4 linked regions of the Homo sapiens genome follow. The protein of the gene in region 3 purifies or fractionates together with the protein of the main gene of each other region. This does not show direct contact. Each region holds a gene or a part of one and is shown on either strand. Other genes may lie near its edges.

Region 1 (5,184 bases), on a different chromosome or scaffold from region 3:
ACCCTGGGTTCGAGAGGAGGCAGGCAAGGGTCACAGAGGGGTGGGCAGGGCAGGACACCCTGGCGCACTTGTAGCCTGGGGTGTGCCACTGGCCTTTGCTAGGCCTGTGTCCCCGCTGGTCTGGCTGGCAGTGTGGGCACCACGGTGTCCACGGGCTTCAACCTTCAAGGTCTAGAATTCTGAGCAAAGGGCAGGGCTGGGAAGTCTGGGAGGAGGCGGGAAAAATCATGGGGAAATGGAAGCCCAGTCAGAAGTGGAAGGGAGGGGCCGGGTGCAGTGGCTCACGCCTGTAATCCCAGCACTTTGGGAGGCCTGTGCAGGTGGATCACTTGAAGCCAGGGGTTTGAGACCAGCCTGGCCAACATGGTGAAATCCCATTTCTACTAAAATAAAAAAAATTAGCTGGGCATGGTGGTGGGCATCTGTAATCCCAGCTACTTGGGAGGCTGAGACACAATCGCTTGAACCAGGGAGGTGAAGGTTGCAGTGAGCCAGGATCGCACCACTGCACTACAGCCTGGGTGACAGAGCGAGATCCTGTCTCAAAAAAAAAAAAAGGGTCGGGCGCAGTGGCTCATGCCTGCAACCCCAGCACTTTGGGAGGCTGAGGCAGGTGGATCACCTGAGGTTAGGAGTTCAGGACTAGCCTGGCCAACATAATCTCATCTCTACTAAAAAATACAAAAATTAGCTGGGCGTGGTGGTGCATGCCTGTAGTCCCAGCTACTTGTGAAGTTGAGGCAGGAGAATCGCTTGAACCCAGGAGACAGAGGCTGCAGTGAGCCGAGATCACGCCACTGCACTCCAGCCTGGGTAACAGAGCAACACTCCATATCTCAAAAAAAAAAAAAAAAAAAAAAGTGTAAGGGAGAAAGGAGGCCCCAGCACAGCAGGATTGCTGAGCAGCGCAGAACTGTTTTGGGGTATCTGCCACCACTAGGGTCTATCTTCAGGACAGGGGGGCAATGTATTCACAGCAGATCCAGCCAGTGTGTGGCAGTGGAGCCCCTGGTTTGAGAAGTCACCTTCTCAAATGACTCTGGGCATGGTTACCTCTCTACCTCTGTCTCCCTCTTGTGAAATTGTGAAATGGAGCCTGGAATGCAAAGGCTTCTAGTACAGCGCTTGGCCCACGCGAGCATTGACACGGGGGAGGTAGTGTGGATGCCGCAGGAGGCAGTCATGTCTTCTCCCAGGGAGCTGGGCTCGAATGAGGGAATTACAGGCACCCGGAAAGGGCAGCAAGTGGGCGGTTTGGGACAGAATGAGGGCCCCAGTGCTCCTTCCCCACCTGCCCCAGGGGACCCCACCTCTTCCTTCATGCCCTCAGAAAGCAGCATCATGACGCAGGCCTCGATGGGCAGGGCAATCTCCCGGCCCAGCTCTTGCAGGTGGGTTGCCAGCGACACCCCATACACCCTGGGGAAGTGGGTGGCTGTCATCGAAGGGGAGTGGTCTGCAGGGATGAAACAGATCAGCGGCCCAGGGCCTTCCCACCCCGAGCAGTCAGGCAGGGGCACCCCCCCTTCATGTCCTCAAGGTGGTACCACCTGCCACTGACTGTCCAGGCACACATCTGAAATCATCCGTCACATCTCTCGAATCAGCCCGCCTCCACTGCCTCTGTCCTAGTCCAGGCCACCGTTGCCTCCTTCTGCCTCACAGGCCTGGCTCTAGTCCTGCCCGCTTCACTCCACCCTCCACACAGTAGCCAGAGCTGCCTCTCCATCACAGATTGAGCCTAGCTCTCAGAACCCATCCACAGCTTCCTGCTACCTTTCAGGATGAAGTGCGAGCTTCTCAATAAGCCCCGAGCAGGGCAGGGTCAGGGGTGTGGTATCGCCGGGCCTATGTCCCCACCTGCTTGGCCGTGGTTCTCCCTCAGCTCAGCCAGGGCTGTGTCCAGCGAGCTCAGTGACCTGCGATGGTAATCGGCCTGAATCTCCAGGAGCTGTGGGGATGAAGGGACACCCTGAGCGGAAGTGGGGGAAGCTGAGCCTTCTATAGGGTCCTTGAGAGCAGACGCCCCCTCCACCATCTTAGAGCCCCAGTGGCCCCTGGCTCTGGCATTCAGCCCCTGAACTCTGGATGGCTGGGGCCCGGTCTTGGACTCACACGAATGAAGTAGTTGGCATAGGAGTCCTCCTTGGTAACAAAGTGGTACAGGTCAGCCAAGTACTCGTCCTTGGGGACAGAGAGGGGAGAGCTTACGTTGGGTGAGGCTGTGGGGTCTAGAGGGGAAGAGGAGGCTTGGAAGGGTTGGTGACCTCCCCCAGGCCACACAACTGCAGGTGGAAGGTCCCAGCCAGGCTCCTCTCTCTGCCAAGGTTGGTGCTTGGGGCCAGCCCCTGGGAACTCCCTCAAACTTTTCTGGCTTCTCGTCCCCATCTCTGTGTCTCCATAGACTTAGCACAGTGCCTTGTTTTTTGTTTTGTTTCGTTTGAGACGGAGTCTCACACTGTTGCCCGGGCTGGAGTGCAGTGGTGCAATCTTGGCTCACTGCAACCTCCGCCTCCTGGGCTCAAGCGATTCTCCTGCCTCAGCCTCCTGAGTAGCTGGGATTACAGGCGCCCGCCACTACGCCCAGCTAAGTTTTTGTATTTTTAGTAGAGACAGGGTTTCACCATGTTGGCCAGGCTGGTCTTGAACTCCTGACCTCATGATTCGCCTGCCTCGGCCTCCCCAAGTGCTGGGATTACAGGCGTAAGCCACCGCGCCTGGCCTTGCACAGTGACCTGTTATTCACCATTCAGTCATTCTTTCATTCACTCTTCATTTATTCATTCACTCGCTCGCTCAGCAAACAAACACATGGAGACTCAGGGAACAGACCAAGTCTCTGCCTTCCCAAGTTATGCATGGGGTACAGACAGAAGAGGCTACGAGGGAATGGCGGAGCTCTGCTGGCTCCTAGCCACGTGGCCTTAGGCAAGTCATGTCACCTCTCTGAACTTCAGCTTCCTTGCCTGTGAGATGGGCCAGGACCCACCCCTGCCACCCCTACATATCCAGGGGACCCCCATGGCCCTCACCCTGCATTGCTCCACTTTCCTCTTCAGCTCCTCCTCCTCCTCCTTCAGCGTCTCCACCTTGTTGGCCATGGTCGTATGGCTGTGACTACCCGGGCTGCCTCCTAGGCCTTGACTGCTGCCTGAATTCTTGGTTGCCTGACTGAGCCTGGAGATGATCCCAAGGTGAGCTGGTCACCTGCCCTGTTGCATGTCCAGAGCCAAGTGTCCCCTCCATACAGCAGACCACATGGGATTCTAGGATTTAGAGCTGCAGATCTGAGAGCTCCACTGGCCGGGGCCTCTGCCCAGGCTGGGCCATGAGTGCTCTGGGTTGCCCCCTGGTGGCAGATTTGGTGATCACAGCCACTCCACAGAGGGGAGAACAGGGCTGCCGCAGGACTGTTTACAGGATCCCAGGCTTTAGGGTTGCCCCAGCACCAGCTGTGACACACGCGGGCACACCCTCACAGATACGCTAACCACCTGTGCTCCTAGGGACCAGGCGTGCACAAGTACACACACTGTACTCAGCAGACCCCACAGCATCCTCCTGGTGTGGCCAGGGCCTCAAAGCTCTATGACCATCTCTGTGGGCTGACCCAGATATGAGCCCCCTGAGCGGCTGGGGCTCCCACCTGCTCTTGAGTGTGTTCCAGTCGGACACGAGCTTCTGGAGGCTTTTCTTGTGTTTGAGGATGGCTGGCAGCTCCTCCTGGGGATGGGCATGGGGGGGTCAGTGTGCTGGGGGAGGAGGGAGCCAGAAGCTGGGGAAGCTGGGGGCTGAAAGCAGGGCACAGGCTCACCTCACTCAGCCTGCTGAGTGGCTGCAGGACGTCCCTCTCCAGGGTCATCTCAAACTCGGCCAGGATGCGGGCCAGCTGATTCTGGATGGCACAGCTCATCTCCAAGGCCTTCCTGTGGACACGGCACCCCATGGGTCCAGGCGCCCGCTGCCCTCACCTCCACTGGAAACACTTGGTGGGGCCTCTCCTCCCTCACTTCCGGCCCCTCCTAGATATCCTTCATCTCTGCTAAGCTGAACACCCTCCCAGGCCTGGCCACCCTCACTGACCTGGGAACTGTCCCCAGCCTGGTCATTCTTCTGATGTGGATGCCCTCACCACCTGGACCCCCTCCCAGCTGAGATCACGTCTTGGTATCCCCAGGTGAGGGCTGGGCCCCGTCTGTGCTCACCCCATGCTGGAATCAGGGTCCAGCTCCTTGAAGCTCTCAGCCATCGTGGTGGACAGAGCCATGAGGGGAAGCTTCTTCTGCAGGGAGGGTGGGGCCGGCGATGAGTGTCCGTGCCTCCCTCCACCCTGCCTGAGCACCAGGCCAGCCCCTTGGGGCAGGGGAGGAGGGAACCCAGGAGGGCCACAGTCCCAGATGAGAGTGGAAACAAGATGACAAGGCGTGGTGGGGGTGACATTTCCCTGAGAGCATGGATGGAGCCCCTCTCCATCTGGCGTGCCCTTTCCTCTTCCCAGAAGCCACTTGACTGGGCAGGAAGGAATGACCAAGTCCTACTGCAGACTGGGAAACTAAGATGCAGGGAGGGCAGGGAGCTTGCCCCAGGTCACACAGGTGGAGGGAGAATGGGAGCGGGAGCTCTTTCCCCTGTCCCAGGGTATATATGGCTGACCTAGCCACCGCTGAGTTCAAACGCTCTATGGCTCCCAATTTCCTTGCCTTGGCCACACTGAATTGTCAACTGATTCCAAAACATGGCCCCACACTCCCACCCCATCTGGAGTTACGGGGAATGCCTGCTCTGGGATCAGAGACCAGGGTTCAAACCTCAGTTCTGCCACTTACTAGCTATGTGACCTTGGACAAGTGACTTTATCTCTGAGCCTCCAGTTCCTCATGTGTAAAGCAATGCCTGCCCCTAGGGTTGTGCCAGTGTTCCATGAGACAGTGCACTCATATGTTAGTAACAAGCTGGCGGTTATCAGCCAATAAACGCTGCCTCTTGATTAATAAACGTGTATCCCTCAAAAGCCAGCTCAATTGCTACCTCCTTCAGGAAACCCTCTGAGGCCGCCCCATTGACAGCCTGCTCTTGCGCACTGATTGGACAGAGAAGTTCAGGTGCTGTCAGAAGCCTGGCCTTGGCTTATGGGAACTGGTGCACAGGGAAGTGGGGTAAAGGTGATGGGGAAGGTATAGGGCC
Region 2 (5,184 bases), on a different chromosome or scaffold from region 3:
CAATGGCACCATCTTGGCTCACTGCAACCTCCGCCTCCCAGGTTCAAACAATTCTCCTGCCTCAGCCTCCCGAGTAGGTGGGATTACAAGCATGCGCCACCACACCCAGCTAATTTTGTATTTTTAGTAGAGACAGGGTTTCACCATGTTGCTCAGTCTGGTCTCGAACTCCTGACTTCATGTGATCCGCCCACCTCGGCCTCCCAAAGTGCTGGGATTACAGGCGTGAGCCACTGTGCCTGGCCCCAAAACCCACCATCTTAATGTCTAAGGGGGACAGTGAGTTCACCAAATCAAACTCTCAAAATGGGCATAACAATTGAGTTATCACCCCTAACAAAACACTTTCATTTCAGCAAGAGTTTGAATTCTTTTTCTGGAGACAACACCTTGATCTAAAATGGCTTCAAAAGTATGAATTCCATAGCTGCGTACAGGGGCACAGGTACAGTCTCAGCTACTTGGGAGGCTGAGGCAAGAAGATCACTTGAGCTCCCGACTTCGAGTCCAGCCCGAGCAACAGAGTGAGGAGACCCTGTCTCTAAATAAACTAGTAAATAAGCAATTCTAGACCATACTTTCCAAATCCAGTCTTCTTCACTATTTTTATACTCCTGAGATCCAGTATTTAAACTACTCTAACCTAAATGTAAAATTTTACATTAAAAGTATTATATACAATTTTAAGTATTATATACTTGTTGATAAAAGTTATCTGAAACAGTCTATCAAATATGAAGAATGCTTTCCATCTGAGATTCAGCACTTAGGGAGGAAATATTAAATGCCTACTAAGAAATCACTGGCCAGGTGTGGTGGCTCATACCTGTAATCCCAGCACTTTGGGAGGCCAAGATGAGAGGATCGCTTGAGCCAGGGGTTCAGTCCAGCCTGGCAATAGAGCAAGAACCCATCTCTTAAAAAAAAAATTAATAAAAATTAAAAATAAATTATTTATTCATAAAATTTATGAATTTGAATCTTTACTTTTCCCCCCAAAAGTGGTAGTACTCTATGAAGAGAAAAACTGGCCAAGTAATAGGAAAAATAAAATTAAATGCCTGCATACCAACAAATGCATAGTCTTAAGAGTCAAAAGCTCAGCCAGGAGTAGTGGCTCACGCCTATAATTGCAGCACTTTGGGAGGCCAAGGCAGATGGATCACTTGACATCAGTAGTTCAAGACCAGCCTGGCCAACATGGTGAAACCTTGTCTCTATTTAAAAAATACAAAAATTAGACAGGCATGGAGGCAGGCACCTGTAATCCCAACAACTTGGGAGGCTGAGGCAGGAGAATGGCTTGAACCCAGGAGGCGGAGGTTGCAGTGAGCTGAGATGGCGCCACTGCACTCCAGCCTGGGCAAGAGAGCAAGACTCCATCTCAAAAAAAAAAAAAAAATATCAAAAGCTTAATTCCAGTATTTTTCCTAAAAGCAATAACTATTTTAGGACATCTTAAGTAAAGGCATAAGCTGTGGAATAAATGCTGTGTTTACCTAGTTTTATATGCTCCACTCGTTCATGGAGCTGATTTACTAGTGCTTTCATCTGCTTGTAGTTCTCCTAAAACAGAAATAGAGGAGACAGGGGAGAGAAATATTAGAAAGCAATTCCTTTTTACCAAAATAAAGGTCAAAAAAAAAAAAAAAACAGTGGTCTGTGCCAACTCTGTGTGGCCGCCACACTGGGCCACCCCATCTGTGGCAGCCACGCTGGGCCACTGGATCGTATGGAAAAGATTCACCCCTGCCTGTCTTGTTCAAGCTCTTCTTCACCACCCCACTTGTCCATCTCTCCATATCTTACTCCTCTGTAAGCCTAATTCATGTTTTATCTCATCTTCAACTCTACTTCTGGCCACTCCTACTCAATTTAACATCTTTCTTCCTTAAACACCTTCTGAACTTAAACTGATCTCTATTTGTTTTCCTATTTTAAGGAATATAAGCTTTTTGAAGGTTAGAATACCATCTTATTTTTCCTGTCCCATCAGTCACTATCTGAGATTCCAACCAATGCTTGCTTACTGACAAAGTACACTTAAAAACAAATCCCAGAGGGAGAAAAAGGATCTTATTTTTATTTTTAATTTTGTATTTTTATTTTTTGGGACAGAGTCTCCCTTTGTTGCCCCGGCTGGAGTGCAATGGTGCAATCTCGGCTCACTGCAACCTCCGCCTCCCGAGATCAAGCGATTCTCCTGCCTCAGCCTCCTAAGTAGCTGGGACTACAGGTGTGTGCCACCATGCCCAGCTAATTATTGTATTTTTAATAGAGACCGGGTTTCGCCATGTTGGCCAGGCTGATCTCAAACTCCTTACCTCAAGTGATTTGCCCATCTCGGCCTCCCAAAGTGCTGGGATTACAGGCATGAGCCACCGCACCTGGCCAAGGATCCTATTTTATGTTTTAAAAAGAACAGGCTGAGTGTGGTGGCTTATGTCTGTTATCCCAGAGCTTTGGAAGGCGGAGGCAGGAGCATCGCTTAAGCCCAGGAGTTTGAGACCAGCCTGAGTAACATAGGGAGACTTCCATCTTTACAAAAAGAATAAAAATAAAAAGAATAAAAATTTAAAAATTATCTGGGCATGGTGGTGTGTCCCAGCGACTTGACCAACTAAGGTGGAAGGATCTCTTGAGCCCAGGAGTTTGAAGCTGCAGTGAACTAGGATCGTGCCATTGTACTCCAGCCTGGGTGACAGAGCAAGACTGTTTCAAATAAATAAATAAATTAGTAAAAAGAACAAAACTCGGCCAGCCGTGGTGGCTCACGCCTGTAATCTCAGCACTTTGGGAGGCCGAGGCGGGCAGATCACCTACGGTCGGGAGTTCGAGACCAGCCTGACCAACATGGAGAAAACTCGTCTCTACTAAAAAATACAAAATTAGCCAGGCAAGGTGGTGCTTGCCTGTAATCCCAGCTACTCGGGAGGCTGAGGCAGGAGAATCCCTCGAACCCGGGAGGCGGAGGTTGCAGTGAGCCAAGATTGCATCATTGCACTCCAGCCTGGGCAACAAGAGCAAAACTCCATCTCAAAAAAAAAAAAAAAAAAACAGAACAAAACTCTATGCTGGCATATATACACAAATTAAGTAATACACAAGGAAATATTGACAGTGAGAAGTAGAAAAGAGGTAGAGGGACTAACTTTTCACCCTTCTGTATTTTTAAATTTTGTTTGGTCAGCATATTACTTTAGAACAATACTTAACTAGCTAATTATCTTTGAAATTCAGACTTGGCCCACTAATACATTTTGCTCCCCATGTGATTAGCATCTCTAGTTATTTAGTTCCTTCTGTTTGACAGAACACTAAGCAACTTCCTAACTGTTCAAACTTAGATGAATATTCAGTCTACAGTATATCTCCATTATTTCCTATTTTCTACAGCTCCAAGAGCTCTGAGGGTCATGATTTCTGCTACATTCTCTTGCTCTGCAAAATCCAGAAAATAAAAAACAAGGAAGCAGCATGGTATTAGGGAAAGAACCAGTTGGAGCTAACACAATATACAGAACTTGTCACCCTACAACAGCAGAAAAAAGTATGTAACTTTTCTCAAGTGCACAGGCAACATTCTCCAAGATAGACTACATGTCAGGCCACAAAACAAATCTTAATAAATTTTAAAAGACTGAAATCATACAAAGTATCCTTTTTTTTTTTTTTGAGACGGAGTCTGGCCGTGTCGCCCAGGCTGGAGTGCAGTAGCACAGTCTCAGCTCACTGCAACCTCCGCCTCCCGGGTTCAAGCGACTCTCCTGCCTCACACTCCCAAGTAGCTGGGATTACAGGCGTGCGCCACCATGCCCAGGTAATTTTTTTATTTTTAGTGGAGACAGGGTTTCACCATGTTGGCCAGGCTGGTCTAGAACTCCTGACCTCAGGTGATCCACCAGCCTCGGCCTCCCAAAGCGCTAGGATTACAGGCCTGAGCCACCATGCCTGGCCCAAAAGTATCCTTTCAATCACAATGGAATGAAACTAGAAATCAATGGCAGAAGGATGACTGGAAAATTCACAAATATATGGAAATTAAACAACGTACTTTTAAGCAACCAGTGGGTCAAAGAAGAAAAGCACTGACCCACTGAAGCTGACATTTGCCTCTACAGACTGGGCAACATCTGTGCCAAGCTCAGCCCATCAGACTTAAATCACAGAAGAGCCAGTACTGGCTACAGTTCACCTCCCAGGCAATCCTTTATCAACCAACCTAGCCTCCTTAGGATGAGACTCACTAACCAAGAGGCAGTGTAGTTTAGTGGCAAAACCAAGTTCAACTTTCAGTTTCCCTACTTACTGATACTGCATTTGGCAAATCTTGATCTCTCAGGACGCCAGGTGTTTGTGTTTGTGTGTGTGTGTGTGTGTGTTTTAATCACCTGCGAAACAACATTCTACAACCTAGTAATTTTCTTGTGAAGCTGAGCAACCACAGAGGTTAGTGCCTGACAGTCATAATGAATTGGAGCTGAGCCACTGACAAGTTTCCCACCCCATCTTTTCAACCATAGAACCCACCTAGGTAGAGCTGGGTGAGTGAGAAGCATTATAGAGCAACAGTTAAGACCCTGGACTCAAGAGTTATGAGCCAGACCACCTGGCTTCAAATTCAGGCTCTGTGTTATCTCAGACAAATTTCTTGGACCCTATATACCACAGTTTTCCCATCTATAAAACAGAAATAACAATTGTACCTACTGCACAGGATCATTATGATAAATACATGAGTAAAACCACATAAAGCCTTTAGAAAAATGGTGGGTACACTATAAAATTCCTGCCATTATTATTACTTATTATAGTTGCTTTTATTTGTAATCAGGAAACACAGCTAAACTGGATCATTCATCCCATTCTCCCCCACCCTCATGGACTTGCTTTGTCTAATGTGAGCACACATTAATTTCATCACATGCCAGCAAGGATTTTAAATCCAATTTGTGTTCAGCCTCTTGCTCCTGTGCCTTCGGCCATGAGAAGGGCATGTTTAATTCAGGGCTGCTCTTCAGCCTCAGTCCAGGAATGGGAAGACACATGGAGCAGACCTGAACCTACCCTGCAGTGGAACAGTCACAGCAGCAGCTAACCAAAGGCCACCAACACGAGTGAGAGATTAAGAAACAAAACAAAATCAAGTGAGAGACTAATATTTACTGTTGTGAGTTACTGAGA
Region 3 (5,184 bases):
CTGTGCCGGGGATTTGGAGCACATGGAGGGTGGATCTGTCTCTCAGTTCTTTTTTCCCCTCCCATTATTCTCAAGCGACACCTTGTTGGCTTACTTCTGTCTTACAGGTTATTCTCCCATGTCGGTGACCCCTTCCTGGATGACCCCCTGCCCCGGGAGTACGTCCTCTACCTCCGTCCCACCGGCCCCTTAGCACAGAAGCTTTCCGACTTTTGGCAGCAGTCGAAGCAGATCTGCGGGAAGAACAAGGCACACAACATCTTCCCCCACATCACACTCTGCCAGTTCTTTATGGTGAGCGGCAGCGCCCCCACCCCTGGGAAGCCTGGCTCCTAGGATCCCAGCCGGCCCTTTGGGACCTGGAGCAAAGGGAGGCCTCGCAGGAAGACAGCAGGAATAGTCACAGGCTCCTACAGCTGGAGGGACCTTCAAGGGATCAGTGAGGTCCACAATGGGCCCCTCACCCCAACGCTTCCTAGTTTTATCTGCTGAGGCCCAGGAGCACCCCAGGATGGGGGCAGCACCAGATTGTAACCCTCTGTGAGGGACACACTGGTCTGGCTGCTGGAATAGAATCACTGATCTAGCTTCACACCTGTTTGCTGTCTACCCTCTCCACTCTTACGACAAGCAAAGAGGAGGAACTAAGAGCAGGGAACAACAAAGGCAGTTTATAGACAGGGAAAGCCATTTCCTGTCCACAAGTTTTTTTTTTCCCGCTATATATTTCTAGAGAATGCAAAGATATTTACTTGCCATTGTTACCTAGTGTATAATCCTAGCTGTCAGAAAGCTTATCTACTGACCAATTTTTGTTGTTGTTGTTGTTTTGAGACAGAGTCTCACTCTGTCACACAGGCTGGAGTGCAGCAGCATGATCTCGGCTCACTGCAACCTCCACCTCTCGAATTCAAGCGATTCTCCTGCCTCAGCCTCCCAAGTGGCTGTGATTACAGGCATATGCCACCATGCCCGGCTAATTTTTGTATTTTTAGTAGAGACGGGGTTTCACCATGTTGGCCAGGCTGGTCTTGAACTCTTCACCTCAAGTGATCCGCCCACCTCAGCCTCCCAAAGTGCTGGGATTATAGGCATGAGCCACCATGCCTGGCCTCTACTGACCAAATATAATCCCCCTCACTATCACACATGTAAATACATTTTGTCTACTTTAGCTCTCTGTGGTAATAGAGAAGAGTTGATTTATCTCCATATATTCAAGACCAAACAAAGTGGTAGCATTTTAAACCATTTTTATAAAAAATATTTTGCTTTCTTCCCCAGATATATTCTCTCTCTTTTTCTCTCTCTCAGGTAATAATAATGTTCCTAACACCTTCTCTTTTACCATTCACTCTGAAAATTAAAGTGACTGTCATTTCCTCTTAGTCATCCCAGGATCTTTCTCAAAACCCTTCAGAGTTTGAGAGACGTTCATTCTTTTTTCCAATGCTCTCAGGAAGGTAGGAGGATGATGTCACAGCTCTCTGGGACTCATTCTTCCCAACTATCATGAGGGTGGATGTAGAGTCAACTTCTGATCATCTAAGAGGAAAAGAAAAGTACAGATGATACAAAATAGTAGAAAACACGCAGCTTCTCCTGGGATGCTGCACTCTCTCCTGTCACATTCCTTCATTTTTTTTTTTTTTTCACAAGCAAGGAGAACTTTGATTTTTTTTTTCTTTTTCTTTTTTTTTTTTATGGATATATAGTCTCTCTCTGTCACTCAGGCTGGAGTGCAGTGGCGTGATCTTGGCTCACTGCAACCTCTGCTTCCCGGGTTCAAGTGATTCTCCTGCCTCAGCCTCCCAAGTAGCTGGGATTATAGGCGTCCGCCACCATGTCTGGCTAATTTTTGTATTTTTAGTAGAGATGGGGTTTCACTATGTTGGTCAGGCTGGTCTCAAACTCCAGTCCTCAAGTGATCTGCCCGCCTCAGCCTCCCAAAGTGCTGGGATTACAGGCATGAGCCACTGCGCCCAGCCTGATTTTTTTCTAATTGATAAAAATTATATACATTTATGGCGTATAACATGATGGTTGAATATATGTATGCATTGTGGAGTGCCTAAATCAAGCTAATTGTACATGCATTACCTCGCATGCTTATCAGGCATTTGTGGTGAGAACACTTAAACTCTACTCTCTTAGTAATTTTCAAGCATATAATATGTTATGATGAACTATAGTCACTGTGCTGTACAATAGGTCTCTTGAACTTATTTCTCCTAAGTGAAGTTTTACGTCCTTTGACCAATATCTCCCCAATCTCGCTCCCCTTTCTTGCTTTCGGCTCAACCAGTCCTGCAGCATTTTGGCTGGGTTCACGGGGGCCACTTCACAGCAAGGAAAGGAGGGAAGAGGTCATGTGTTCCCCACATTAATCCACCAGTTGGGTAATCTGTGTCTGAATAATTGGAAGTCTGCAGTTCCTCTCTCCCCACAGACAGGGGTAGTGGTTAAGTAATTGCATTATCAGCCTCCTCCAGTCTCTGGGGAGAGGATGCCAATGTTAAGTAGCAGCAGACTTCCATCTCCCCTTGTCTCTGAGTGAAGACTGCCTGTTTTCCCTGCCAGTGCGAGGACAGCAAGGTGGATGCCCTGGGGGAAGCCCTGCAGACCACGGTCAGTCGCTGGAAATGTAAGTTCTCGGCCCCGCTGCCCCTGGAGCTCTATACGTCGTCCAACTTCATCGGCCTCTTTGTAAAGGAAGACAGTGCGGAGGTCCTCAAGAAGTTTGCTGCTGACTTTGCTGCAGAGGCTGCATCCAAAACCGGTGAGCAAACAGCTGCCAGGCCAGCCCTGGGCCCTGTCAATCAAAGAGTTGGAAAGGAAAAAGGATAGGAAATAGTGGTAGAGGAGCAGGATGGGGTCAGGAGGTGGAGGACCCTGCAGGAATGGACGTGTGACAAAAAAACAGCCTTTTCCTGCAGCACCCCACGTCTTGCTCCCTTGTAAAAACGTTCAACCCCTCTTCTGCTGACCTGGAGAGACCGTCTAAGGCTTATTCCCTAACACCCAAGTTGAAGTTTCACAAATGACTTCCATACTGAACTAGAAATGTATTTCTTTGTAGCACCACCATCTCCTCCTAATTCAGAATTAAAGAAACATCCTTTCTCCCTCCCAAGCTCCCGCCCATGTAGGTGTTTATCTGGGTCTCATTGTTCACTCCATGACAATCCAGATCTTTTCTCAGTGGGTAGCAGAGGATAGAGAGAAGAGTGGAAGCACTTCGTATTATATCACAATAAAATCCACTGAACCAATACCCTTCAACTTGCTGAAAACCATTAGACAGGACCCCAAGCCCCAAGAGTCTGTCTAAAAATGTAACCCCTTCCAAATGTCTCCTGCTCTTCTCATGGGAGCTCTTAGTTCAGGACACCTGAGATTTCCTGTCAAAGGAATTAGCTTAAGGGGGTGCTCAAGGCAGGAGACACGATGGAGGTGAAAAGAGGGAGAAGTTTGCAAAGCTCTCCTGTCTGACTACAGGTGTGGACAAGCTCACTTAGCTCAATGACAGCAGGGAAACAGACAGACAATCTGGTGGGGGGAGAGCCTCTTGGCTCGCTCCAGCATGAAATCACAATTGGCAGGTACTTACTGGTCACCTACTATGAGGATTTCTCCTACATGAGGAGTGCTACAGGGAAGAGAACAAGAAGTGGTTTCTCCCGGCCAGGCCCTGTGTAACATCAGCTCTGAAAAGAGAAAGGGGTGGTTCTACCTTCACGGAAGGAAGGAAACTTGCCCTGGGACGATGTTGATCAGGACAATGGAGGAAAGGCCTGCAGGCGGGCGGGTGGCAGGAGCACAGGCAGGCAGGCATGAGATGGTGTGAGCAGAGGACAGTGGGGAGGCTGCCCTGACCAGAGTGGATGGTGCAGGATGCACAGTGGAAGCCGAGTGCTGAGTGCAAAGCTGGAGGAGACGTACAATTCCCCTACCCCTAATTTTAGGGAGTGCCAGAGAGGGGGAAGACCTGAGCAAGGCCGCAGTTTGCTCCTTAGCCTTTTGGCCTTTGGCCTATCCCTCACCTGCCATTGTTCCCTGCTGCTATTTTCATCACCATCTCAGGCCCTTTGTTCCATATTCCTCTTTACCAGAAAAGCACCACACAGGACTTGGGACCTATGAGTGGGATCGGGGCTCAGTATCACTGCAGGATCACAGTGCTCTCGGAAGGAACACAAGGACCTTAAGACCCCTCTGTACCTGGGGAGGGGTCCTCTTTAGACTTTGCAACCCCCACCCCCACCTCTTCCTCTCCCTCAGCGACGGGACTAGTCTCCGGGTCCTGACTTCAGTGAAGCCTGACATTTCATAGGAGCTTAATATTTCAGAGAAAGAGCATAACTGAGAGGCAAATTATTTCCTGCTCTTATCCCTCAATCTCAAGGAAATGGCTTTCTCTCATCCCACAGTAGTTATTGTCAGAACCACTAAATCCCCACAAGGACCAAAACTAATGTCAAAGCCGCAAAACCCAAATCCTTCACAAATGAGAAAAGCAAGCCTCAGCCAGGGCCGCACAGATTCTTGGAGTGCATACTGAGTGAGCAGCAGTCGAAGCCCCAGCTTTCCCTGTGGGACGCGGGTGGAGCCAATTCCTCTCCAAGATCCTGCTGTCATGAAGAACTTGGCCGGCTTCGTTTCTCTGCTGTTGTGTGGCCCCCTGGTGGGGATGTGGAGAACTGGATGACCCTGCGCAGCTTAGCTGGTCCCGCTCCTTATTACCCAGCATGGGAAGCCGGCCACCATGTCTTTGCCCTGGAACTTGGTATTCTCCAGTTGTTGGCAGGACCAGATATCATCAAGTAGATTTAGTGTCTTCCTCCATTTGAAGTGGTCAAGGGAGATTCATTCATGTGCATTTATTCATTTAACAAGTACTGAAAACCTGCATGATATGCTGAGTAAGGATACAGTGTAAGCGAGAGACAAAAACCTTGTTTCATGGGGCTTACACCAAAGAAAGGCAATGCAGTATAAAAGAAAAAGTACTTAAAACCGAAATGCTCAATTTCTAGTTCTATCTTGGGCCACTAATTCTCTGTGTGACTTGACCAAGTTCCTTAAATTCTCAAATTCCCTAATTTCTTCTAGTTGCAACTTCTTCATTATTCTAGTTTGTACAGTAGATGATTCTCCCTCATTGTAAATACAAAAGAGGCCAGG
Region 4 (5,184 bases), on a different chromosome or scaffold from region 3:
CTAATTTTTGTATTTTTAGTAGCGATGGGGTTTCACCATGTTGGCTAGGCTGGTCTCAAACTCCTGACCTCGTGATCCACCTGCCTCGGCCTCCCAAAGTGCTGGGATTACAGGTGTGAGCCACCGCACCTGGCCTTTTTTTAAAATTATTATTATTTTATTTTTTATTTTTGAGACACGGTCTTTCGCTGTTGCCCAGGTTGGAGTGCAGTGGCACAATCACAGCTCACTGCAGCCTTGCTTGATCAAGCGATCCTCCTGCCTCAGTTTCCCGAGTAGCTGGTATTCCAGGTGCAAGTCACCAAGCCTGGCTAATCTTTTTTATGTAGAGACAGGGTTTTGCTATGTTGCCCAGGCTGGCCCCCAACTCCTGGAGTCAGGTGGTTCTCCCACCTTGGCCTCCCGAAGTGCTGGCATTACAAGTGTGAGCCGCTGCACGCAGCCTCACATCAGCACCTCTCAATCAATTGGTGCCATCTCCCTGCACATGAACCCTTGCGTCATGATGACATGTGGTCCTCACAGCCAGGCATTTCTCCCCACCCCAGACATAGAGTGAGAGGAGCTCTGCTCTTCCCTCAATAATTCGTGCCATGCTGTGCACTCCTGAGGAGCAAGGCTCTGTGGTCTGCTGGCTCTGCTGGGCTGCATTTGCAAAATGCTAACCTTCCTGTGTCAACCCAGCATCTTCACAGGTGGAATGAGGATGACAAGGCCAAAGCCCACTCGTTGGGTTATTTTTTCAAATTGAGGTATAATTCATATTCCATACAGTCACCCTTTCTATGGTGTACAATTCTTAATTTTCTTTTTTTCCAAGACAGTCTTGCTCTGTTGCCCAGGCTGGAGTGCAGTGGCATGATCTCGGCGCACTGCAACCTCTGTCTCCCGGGTTGAAGTGATTCTCCTGCCTCAGGCTCCTGAGTAGCTGGGATTACAGGCGCATGCCACCATGCCCGGCTAATTTTTTTTTTTCTTTTTGAGACAGAGTCTCATCTCACCCCTGTTGCCCAGGCTGGAATGCAATGGTGTGTTCTTGGCTCACTGTAACCTCCGCTTCCTGAATTCAAGCAATCCTCTGCCTCAGCTTCCCAAATAGCTGGGATTACAGGTGCCTCCCATCACACCCAGCTAATTTTTGTATTTTTAGTAGAGACGAGGTTTCACCATGTTGGCTAGGCTGGTCCCGAACTCCTGACCTCAGGTGATCTGCCCGCCTAGGCCTCCCAAAGTGCTGGGATTACAGGCGTGAGCCACTGCACCTGGCCCTGGTATACAATTCTTTATCGTGCTTTTAGTGCATTCACAATGTTGTGAAACCAACACCACTGTCTGATTCCAGGACATTCTCAATACCTCGAAAAGAAAAGAAACCCTGTACCCACAGCAGTCACTCCCTATTCCCTCTCCACCCAAACCCTGGCAGCAACTAAATGACTTTTTGTCTATGGATTTATCTTTTCCGGATGTTTCATAACTGGAAACATACAACATGTGGACTTTGGGGCCAGCTTCTTTCACTGAGCACAATGCTGTCAAGCTTCATCTGTGTTGTGGCATGAATCACTCCTCTCCAGGGCTGACTAATGAGCCACTGTATTGAAAGAACCACATTTTGTTTATCCATTCATCAGTTGACAGGCATTTGGGTTGTTTCCACTTTTGGGCTATAATGAATAATGCTGTGATGAACATTCATATACAAGGTTTTGTGCAAACATATATTTTCAATATTCTTGGGTCTATATCTAGGAGCAGAATTGCTGGGTCATTTAAGTCTAACACTTTGAGGAACAGCTAAACTGTTTTCCTTGGTGGATCCACCATTTTGCATTCCTACTAGCAACATCTGAGGGTTCCAATGTCTCCACTTCCCTACCAGCACTTGTTATTATCTTTTTTATTATAGCCATCCTAGTGGGTGTGAAGTGATGTCTTATTGTGGTTTTAATTTGCATTTCTCTAATGGCTAATGATGCCAAACGTCTTTTCTCATGGTTAATGGCCATTTGTATTTGGAGAAAAGTCAATTCAGATCCTTTGTACATTTAGAAAACAGGGTTGTTTGTCTTTTCCTTGTTTCCTTGGGTTATCAAGAGGACAAAATGGAAAGATGTGAGTGACATTTACAGCCCAAGTCCAGGCATGTGGTAAGCACCCACCGAATGCTTTGCACACATAAAAATCATGCTGGTGCTGGGCAAGGTGGCTCATGCCTGTAATCCCAGCACTTTGGGAGGCCGAGGTGGGTGGATCACCTGAGGTCGGGAGTTCAAGACCAGCATGACCAACATGGAGAAACCCCATCTTTACTAAAAATACAAAATTAGCCTGCGATGGTGGCATATGCCTGTAATCCCAGCTACTCGAGAGGCTGAGGCAGCAGAATTGCTTGAACTTGGGAGGCAGAGGTTGTGGTGAGCCGAGATGGCACCCTTGCACTCCAGCCTGGGCAACAAGAGTGAAACTCTGTCTCAAAAAAAAAAAAAAAAATCATGCTGGTGATCAGGTGTGGTGGCTCACACCTGTAATCCCAGTACTTTGGGAGGCTGAGGCAAGAGGATCATGAGGTCAGGAGTTTGAGACCAGCCTGGCCAACACAGTGAAACCCTGTCTCTACTAAAAATACGAAAAATTTAGCTGGGCATGGTGGCGGGTGCCTGTAATCCCAGCTACTTGGGAGGCTGAGGCAGGAGAATTGCTTGAACCCAGGAGGTGGAGGTTGCAGTGAGCCGAGATCGTGCCATTGCACTCCAGCCTGGGCGACAGAGCTAGAATCCGTCTAAAAAAAAAAATCGTGCTGGCAATTAGTCTTTATGAGCTAAAAGTGACTAGTGACATCTCAGAAGCAGAGGAGTACAGGACCCATCTGTGAAGAACATTCCATACAGAGGAGAGAAGAGAATGGGGGCAGAGGATTGCTTAGGAAACTTCCTGGAGGCCTCTGGGGGATGCTGAGTTGTCACTTGAGGCCTCCTTGGAGGAAGCACTCAGAGAGATGGAAGCAGGAAGAGGACTGAGTGATGCCCCTGTGACGGAGGCTGCTGGGGACAGGGCTGGGAGCCTGGAAGCCAGCAGGAGGAAGGGATGGGGGCACAGAGGCACACAGAGTGAAACCAGGGGCAATGAACATGACATCAGGAAGAAAGGCAGGCATCTGAAGACCACTGGGCTCCAATTGAGGGGGTGGGTGCAGAGGGTACTGAAGTCCTGGGGCTGAGGACGATGGAAGGAGCACAGCATGTTCCATGACGGGGGTACTCAGGCTTGACAGGTGCGGCAGCACGTGGGGACCAGATTCTCTCCCCTGCTCACTTCAGGCTCCTGTTGTCCCCTTTCATTAGGAAAACACGATATTAACAAGTGCAGGCCCCTAACAGTTTGGGTTCAATACTTACTGTAAACAACCCCACGGAGGGCTGTCCCCGAGAGATCATTTGGGACCTCCCCGGAGCAGAGAGGCTTGCTGGACCACACAGCTGTCAGTGGCAATGGAGAAACAAATAGATCTGATAAACAGCAATGTCCTGTTCTTTAGAGTCACTTTAAAAAATGGTATTTATACAAAGCACAGAAAGTACAAAGCAAAAAGCAGAAAAGTAACCACCCCATCACTGAGACACTAGAATAACCATTGTTAATTCACTGGTGTATCTTCTTCTTCTCTCTACCTCCCTGTATGTATGTAATTTCCATTTTGTATATACATGTATTACATGTATATGTATAATTTTAGTCTGAGATTTCTAGCAGCATTAGCATTTTCCCATTTAGTTAGAATTTCTTCCTAAATATCATATTTTAATTTTAGTCTGAGATTTCTAGCAGCATTAGCATTTTCCCATTTAGTTAGGTTTTCTTCCTAATGATCATATTTAATGGATGTACAGGATTCTATTACATGATGTGCGACACTTCATGAAATGATTCTTCTATTATCAGATATTTAAGTTATCAACAGCATTTTGTTGTTATAAATATGACTGATGAAGGTCTTTTGCAGAAATGTTATAAACATGTCTGGTTATAGATTCCGAGGAGTGGAATTACTAGATCGAGGGACAGGAATGTTTTTAAGGCTCTTGATACAGAATGATACATTGCTTTCCAGAAATTTTTTTCCATATATGCACCAGTAAGCTGTACAAGAGAGTGCCCGCCTCATTCTAACCTTCCTATTCTGAATATTTTCATTTCAAAACACAATACATTGCAAGGTGAAGGTGGTGAATGTTCATTTTGATTTGCATTTGATTGTGGTCACGTTGAGCTTATTTGATAGAGTTATTGACCCTCATAATCCCTCTTTCGTGAATGGTCTGTTCAATTCTCTTTGCCATTTTTCTATCGAAGCTATAGTTTTTCTGTTATCTACTTGCACAAGTTTATATCACACTTGTTGCAAATATTTTCATTGTGATTTTCCTTTAAGTTTTATGATTTTTTTTTGACATTCAGGGACTGTAAATTTTTATATAGTGAAGTCTCTCAGTCTTTTCCTTTTTTCTCCCTTCGCTTTTCAATGCAGAGAATCCCTCTGCACACAGAAATTCACTTGTTTCTTCTTGTACAAGGCAGGTGGGTTATGACAGAGACTTTGGAGCTAATAGACTTGGGCTAAGGATTCAGCAGGTTTTTTTTTTTTTTTCGAGATGGTGTCTCTGTCTGTCACCCAGGCTGGAGTGCAATGGTGTGATCTTGGCTCACTGCAAACTTCTGCCTCCCCAGTTCAAGTGATTCTTCTGCCTCAGTCTCCCGAGTAGCTGGGATTACAGGCTCCCGCCACCATGCCCAGCTAATTTTTGTATTTTTTAGTAGAGACGGGGTCTCACCATATTGGCCAGGCTGCTTTCAAACTCCTGACCTTGTGGTCCGCTCGCCTCGGCCTCCCAAAGTGCTGGGATTACAGGCGTGAGCCACCGCGCCCGGCCAGGATCCAGCAGTTTATTTAATTCCACTGGGCCCTGGTTCCCCTTTCGAAAACCAGTGCTAAGAATACCTATGTGGTAATGTTGTGGGGCAGATTGGATGGAAAATATGTATCATGTTTTTAGCACAGTACTTGGTAAAAACAAATGAAGCAGTTATGGGTTTTTTACTTTTGTTTTTGTTTGTTTGTTTTACATTGAACCATTTAATCTCTCTGGAATTAATTTAACAAATGATGCAGGATACAGATTTAGG

The links. The genes of interacting proteins can lie anywhere in the genome.
Region 1: the proteins of UBASH3B (region 3) and SH3BP1 fractionate together in Homo sapiens (co-fractionation; one large-scale study listed by BioGRID). This does not show direct contact.
Region 2: the proteins of UBASH3B (region 3) and MCCC2 purify together in Homo sapiens (affinity purification with mass spectrometry; one large-scale study listed by BioGRID and IntAct). This does not show direct contact.
Region 4: the proteins of UBASH3B (region 3) and INPP5D purify together in Homo sapiens (affinity purification with western blotting; one study listed by BioGRID). This does not show direct contact.

The regions. Positions count from the first base shown.
Region 1 is NC_000022.11:37,641,637-37,646,820, reverse strand, and holds part of SH3BP1 (SH3 domain-binding protein 1), read right to left. Parts: intron 4,990-5,184; exon of another isoform or gene 4,283-4,989; coding exon 4,206-4,282; exon of another isoform or gene 3,927-4,205; coding exon 3,815-3,926; intron 3,724-3,814; coding exon 3,647-3,723; intron 3,195-3,646; exon of another isoform or gene 3,178-3,194; coding exon 3,033-3,177; intron 2,185-3,032; coding exon 2,116-2,184; intron 1,952-2,115; coding exon 1,861-1,951; intron 1,457-1,860; coding exon 1,311-1,456; intron 4-1,310; coding exon 1-3. UniProt on the Homo sapiens protein: GTPase activating protein (GAP) which specifically converts GTP-bound Rho-type GTPases including RAC1 and CDC42 in their inactive GDP-bound form.
Region 2 is NC_000005.10:71,589,308-71,594,491, reverse strand, and holds part of MCCC2 (methylcrotonoyl-CoA carboxylase beta chain, mitochondrial isoform 1 precursor), read right to left. Parts: intron 1,567-5,184; coding exon 1,500-1,566; intron 1-1,499. UniProt on the Homo sapiens protein: Carboxyltransferase subunit of the 3-methylcrotonyl-CoA carboxylase, an enzyme that catalyzes the conversion of 3-methylcrotonyl-CoA to 3-methylglutaconyl-CoA, a critical step for leucine and isovaleric acid catabolism.
Region 3 is NC_000011.10:122,776,917-122,782,100, forward strand, and holds part of UBASH3B (ubiquitin-associated and SH3 domain-containing protein B), read left to right. Parts: intron 1-107; coding exon 108-294; intron 295-2,580; coding exon 2,581-2,779; intron 2,780-5,184. UniProt on the Homo sapiens protein: Interferes with CBL-mediated down-regulation and degradation of receptor-type tyrosine kinases. Promotes accumulation of activated target receptors, such as T-cell receptors and EGFR, on the cell surface.
Region 4 is NC_000002.12:233,065,810-233,070,993, forward strand, and holds part of INPP5D (phosphatidylinositol 3,4,5-trisphosphate 5-phosphatase 1), read left to right. Parts: intron 1-5,184. UniProt on the Homo sapiens protein: Phosphatidylinositol (PtdIns) phosphatase that specifically hydrolyzes the 5-phosphate of phosphatidylinositol-3,4,5-trisphosphate (PtdIns(3,4,5)P3) to produce PtdIns(3,4)P2, thereby negatively regulating the PI3K (phosphoinositide 3-kinase) pathways.